2 separate regions of the Homo sapiens genome follow, and region 2 is linked to region 1. Evidence: fine-mapped expression QTL. A gene starts in region 1. The other region holds a variant in brackets. All regions are shown on one strand. Distances are from middle to middle. Region 1 holds the start of NEMP2 (nuclear envelope integral membrane protein 2). Region 2 overlaps NEMP2-DT (NEMP2 divergent transcript).

Region 1 (2,913 bases):
TTTCATACAGAAGAAAAGTTTGGAGAGGTTAAGTGGAATTTCATGATTGTCCCCCAGTGACAGAACTATCACCTCCTAACATTCTTGTTATCTCCGGAAAAATATTTATTGCTTATAGAGAAAAATGTGGTGTTTCAATATAGCTTCTTTACAGATATTTACTAAGGATCTGTGATATAAATAGCACTTTAAATATTTAGTACATTGCTGCCTGCCCTTTTGTTTCTCCACCAGATATATCTGTAGAAAATACATTCATCATTCAACAACCCACCTGTTTATTTTAGCTACTTTCCATAGTGCCATCCAAAATTAAACCAAATCAAAATGAATGTGGTTAGGTACAAAAGCTGTCTTGCAAGAAGCAAGTGCACACCGCACCTGGGAATACAGGAAAGAATTGGATCAGGGCTCTGCTGTTTCTCTGAAGACAGGCTTCACTCAAGTAATGATGGTTTATTTTTAAAAACCATCCCTCTGAAGAGTCCCTTACAAGGAAATTTCTTAACTTTTTAAAAGCCATACATGGTGTACACATGGTGCCAAGTGCTTAAGGGCAGTTGGTTAAACCTTTCTTTGAGGGCAAGGAAAGCCTAGTCCATCCTACTCAGACTTTTAGGAAAAATGAGGCTTATCTATTTTTAACAGGATAATTTCTGTTACTTTGGGTTCTCTAAGATATCTCACCAAAAGACCAGAATTAGAGAAGACTGTCCTAGTTAAGTATGGAATATTGAGTCAAATTAATGGGTTCCAGGTCCTGTGGAGGGAATGTTCTTTAAAATATATGTATATCTCCTAATTATCAGTATTAAGATCATTCAGGTTATATGTTAATTTAAAAATATATCTATTACATTAAGAAACTTTTTTTTAACATAAGGTAATTTTAAGAGAACCTTGTCATGTTGGTGAAGGAACATTTTACGAGCCCCTCTGTACTCTGAAATGCCGTGTCCGAGATTAGACATACAAGTCAGTGTTACTTAAGCGGCCAAATTTCCAATTTGTTATTGCTTGTTACCAAATGAAAGTAAAAAGATAAACAGAAAGGTAAAATAAAGAAACTGGCTTTTATGTATTTTATTCACAAAAAGGGCGTTTGCCGAAGGACCTTCCCATTCACGGGCTGTCACTCACAGGTGCTCGGAGAATTCAGCCTCCAAATCCGCAGGTCACAGGTCAGCCAAGTTTTAAGAAACACTCCGGGTTAGCGACTCTTCCTCTCTGCAACTCCCACCCCTGCGCCGAGGGCAGCGGGACACGGCCGGGCGGTCCCCAGGGGAAGATGAGGCCCTGGACGCCCCGCGTGCGCTGGAGGCCCGGAGGCCAAGGCCGAGGCCGAGGCCGAGGCCGGGAGCATGCCAGCGGGGTCGCGCCACCGAAAGCTCCTCCGGCCTGGGCCCGCCGTGCCCCGAGGCCGCGGGCGGAGGCTGGAGCAACGAGCCCAACTCTCCCTCCGCCCCGGGGAGGCGGGGTCTCCGCCTTTCCCGCGTTCGGGCCTCACCGCCCCCTCCGCCTTCTCTGAGCCCCCGCGCCACTTCCGCTCCTCGCAGCGGAGCCGGTCCCCTAGGGCTCGGGTCGCACGGAGCTGACCCCTAACGAAATGGGGCCGCGCCAAGGGCGGTGGTGGCTGCTGCTCTGGCTGCCGCCCCTGGCCACACTGCCCGTGCGCGGGGAGGCGGCGGCGGCAGCGTTATCAGGTAACCCGGGACCGGCGGCGGCGGCGCGCGCGTGCGTGCTCGCTCCCCGGCTTCGCGGCTGCCCTGAGGGCGCGCTCTTTGGCCCGGGCGGCACCGCGAGGCCCACTGGGGCGGGCGCTCCCTTTTCTCGCTTTGGGGTCTCCCGGGCAGGCCCCGCCCGCCCTTCCTGTCTTACTGGGCTTCCGTAGTCTCTCGCCTGGCAGTTGGACATTTTGTAATTTTAGAATTAGAAGCAACCGCGCGATCCAGTCGCCCAATTCCCTCGTTTTACAGAAGCAACCGAAACTCAGAGAGGTTTTGATTTGCCCAGGGTCACACAGCTTGTCACTGGCACAGCTGACCCTAGTCTCCAGACTTTCAGCACACGGCCTTTTGTACAGTACATCAATGCGTGTTGAAATCCTTGTTATTTCACTATCTCGCATTCCTTTGGTCTCAAGACTAGAGAAGGTAACAGCTTCAGCTTCAGAATCGGAGCGAAAATTCTTCTGCCCCTGACTGTTGTGACCTTGAGCGAGTAAACATAACGGTCCCACGTGAGCGGCAGGTAATGAGGCCTCACAAGGTTCTTGTGGTGTTCGTGTGCACAATGCCTGGCACACAGGAAGCAAGAACTGGTAGCGGCTGCTAGCTGTAGGGGCTCGCCACGGAGTGGGCTTAAGATGCTGGCACACTGGGGAAGGATCTGGGAAGGACACCTGGGGAAGTCAGAAACCTAGAGTTCCAACTCCAGACCTGCCGCTAACTTACCATGAGCTTCACATTTCTGTTTCTTTTTTTTTTTCCCCTCATAAAATCTTTTAAAAGATTTCCTGGGTGCACTGTCTACCAACTTCCCTTCCTTGCTTTGGCTACCCTGGTTTCAAGGGAGGCTGCCAAGTGTATTCTTTTAGCTGGGCATGGCCCTCCCTCCGGTTATACCGCGGTTTTTTATCTAAGGATGAATGAGAGACTGGATGTTGATGAGGTCATTATCAGATTCTGCCACAGCTCCCAACTGAGGGAATCTTGCAGTGAGTTATATGTTGGGGAAGTGTTGGATTCCAGTTTTCATTGAAGAGAAATTTTTTGAGTGTTCAGTATGTGCTAGGCAGTGTTATAAGTGCTTTAACTGCAGTATCTATCATATTTAATACCCATAGAAGCCCTATGCGGGAAAGCACCATTTTATACCCATTTTACAGATGAGAAAACGAAGGTTTGGTAGTAA
Region 2 (2,913 bases), 33 kb before region 1:
GATTTAGTCTCTTACATTCTCTTCTTATTCTTTCAATATAGTTATATTACAGTGTTTTTCTCTGATAATTATTGAGTTTTTTGTTGTTTTGTTTTGTTTTGTTTTGAGATGGAGTTTTGCTCTTGTTGCTCAGGTTGGAGTGCAATGGCGCAATCTCGGCTCACAGCAACCTCCGCCTTCTGGGTTCAAGCGATTCTCCTGCCCCAGCCTCCAGAGTAGCTGGGATTACAGGCATGCGCCACCACGCCCAGCTAATTTTGTATTTTTAGTAGAGACGGGGTTTCTCCATGTTGGTCAGGCTGGTCTCGAACTCCTAACCTCAGGTGATCCACCTGCCTCAGCTTCCCAAAGTGCTGGGATTACAAGCGTAAGCCACTGTGCCCGGCCGATAATTATTCAGTTTTTACATAATTAAAATGACAAATATTATTCAAAACTGAGGCATATATATATAAGATTATATTGACACTTTTGGTACAAATTCCTATTTTCCCAGGAGTTGATTATTATTTTATTTGTTTGCATAATTTTCTACATGCCTATCACAAATTCATTCCCTATTCTTCACCAGAAGTGTAAACCTCCTCTTACTGCATTGATTCATAAAGTATTCTACAACAAATGATTTTAATTTCCTTAGTGACATCCTTACTAGAGCTGTGTGTCCTGTATTAATCTCACTTGTTGCTCTCCAGGTTTCCTGCAGAGCTGCTATGCTCAAATCACCTTCACAAAGATCATGTAGATTCTCTTTTCATCTGTAAGGTGATAGATCCCCCATTTCTTGGATCCAATGTCTTCCTCTTTCTTGTTTTCTTCCCCTTATTTTCTTAGATTATATCCTGCAGTAGCTTCCTGTAAAAGGATACATGAGACATAAGTTTTCTGAATTCCTCTGTTTGAAATTATCTTTATTCTGCTCTCACACTTCATTGATAGTTTAGCTGGGTATTGCATTCTAGGTTTAAAAGAAATTATCCTGGCTGGATGCAGTGGCTCACACCTGTAATCCCAGCACTTTGGGGGACCAAGGCGGGCGAATCGCAAGGTCAAGAGATCGAGACCATCCTGGCCAACATGGTGAAACCCTGTCTCTACTAAAAATACAAAAATTAGCTGGGCATGATGGTGCATGCCTGTAGTCCCAGCTACTTGGGAGGCTGAGGCAGGAGAATAACTTGAACCCAAGAGGCAGAGGTTGCAGTGAGTCGAGATCATGCCACTGCACTGTAGCCTGG[T/C]GACAGAGCGAGACTCCATCTCAATAAATAAATAAATAAATGAAATTATCCCTCATAATTCTTAAGGCATCGTTCATTGCTTTCCCTAGTCCAATATTGTAGTTGAGCAAGCAGTCTGATGCATTCTGATACCTACTCTTAGCATAAGACTAATTCTTTTTTCTTCTTCTGAAAGCTTTTGGGATTCTCTCATTATTCCCAATGGTCTGACACATCTCAATGATGTGCCTTGGTGTGGGCCGTTTTTTATTTGTTGTGTTGAGTACTTGGTACCTTCGATTTTTAGACATAGCCTTCAGTTCTGGGAACTTTTCTTGTATACTTTTTCCTCCATTTCTTCTCTTTCTTGAGCTCCTTGTAGTCAGATATTGTTCCTACTAGATGGATAGTCTAAGTCTCATACCTTTCCTTTCTTATTGTTAATCTACTCATCTTTTGGTTCTATTTTCAGCAGACTTCCTCAACTTTATCTCCTACTCCTACTACTGAAGTTTTTAAAATTATATTTTTAGTTTCCAAGAGCTCCTTCCTTTTTTATCTAATTGTTCTTTTATCATCGCATTCTGCTTTTATTTTATAGATACAAATCTCATAATTTTTCAGGCTATAAATTAGCATTTAAACAGTATTTTTCTATTTTCTATAGTTTCCCTTTATATTCCATTTTCTGTTTTTCATGTTTCCTCCTCTCTTTTAGGTTAGAGGTATGATTTACATGCCTCATGGTATTTTTTTGCCGACTTATATTTAAGAATAGAGCACTCAAAAGCTGACGAAGAGCTCTGTGTGGGTAGACGGTGTTTGTAGAGTGATGGGTTTCACTTTTGTATGGTATGGAAAACCTGTTATCTGTTGTATATTTAACTTTTTTGGGGAAAAAACCCCCTATATTTCCTAGGTGAGTGACTTCTGAATCTTTCTTTCCTTCCTTCCTTTCTTTTTTTTTCTTTTCTTTCTTTCCTTCTTTCTTTCTTTTCTTCCCTCCTTCCTCTCTCCTTCCTTCCTTCTTCCTCCCCTTCTCTTCCCTTCCCTTTCCCTCCCCTCCCCTCCCTTCCCTTCCCCTTCCTTTCTTTTTTATTTTCTTTCTTTTCTTTCCCGTTTTAAGACAGAGTCTTACTCCTGTAGCCCAGGCTGGAGTCAGTGTTGCAATCACAGCTCACTGCAGTCTCGACCTCCCATGTTCAGGTGATCTCACACCTCAGCCACCACACCCAGCTAATTTTTTGTACTTCTAGTACAGACAGGATTTTGCCATGCTGCCCAGGCTGGTCTCAAACTCCTGGGCTCAAGTGATCCTCCCACCTCAGCCTCCCAAAGTGCTGGGATTACAGGCATGATCCACTGTGCCCAGTAAACCTGACAGTAAGAAATTCTTTTTCATCAAGTCCCAGTCAACACACTCACATATATTTATAAAGACAAAAATGTTTTGTGAAACAATATTTACTTTCTCTTCATAGAATGCTCTCTGACATTCTCTATCTAGTCTACTGAATTTTATTTTCTTTCATGTTTGTGATGGACCATTATATATCCATTAGATACACTGCAATGAAGGGACTAGTTGCCCCAGACTGTGAGATGGCTGCTGGTGGGGACTCTTCAGTTGTTGGCCTTTTCAGGGATTGCTTCAGTGCAGAGCTGCCTTGCCCAGGGTCATACTTCCTGTGGCCAT

Evidence for each region. PIP is the estimated chance that this variant, and not a neighbour inherited with it, causes the effect.
Region 2: its variant is fine-mapped to the expression of NEMP2 in nasal epithelium (TOPMed, PIP above 0.99).

What each region holds. Positions count from the first base shown.
Region 1 is chr2:190,533,349-190,536,261 of GRCh38, reverse strand. NEMP2 (nuclear envelope integral membrane protein 2) reads left to right here and starts at 1,540. Exons shown (of 9, transcript NM_001142645.2): 1 at 1,540-1,703. The coding sequence starts at 1,607. It overlaps NEMP2-DT (NEMP2 divergent transcript), which reads right to left and starts at 1,424. Exons shown (of 5, transcript NR_183903.1): 1 at 1,141-1,424. RefSeq lists a silencer at 1,227-1,876.
Region 2 is chr2:190,566,015-190,568,927 of GRCh38, reverse strand. NEMP2-DT (NEMP2 divergent transcript) reads right to left here. Exons shown (of 5, transcript NR_183903.1): 2 at 653-855. It also overlaps a transcript of NEMP2 not described here. Among named protein-coding and RNA genes, the nearest start is that of NEMP2-DT, 33 kb to the right of the region's middle. The variant T/C (reference allele first, on the strand shown) is at 1,239.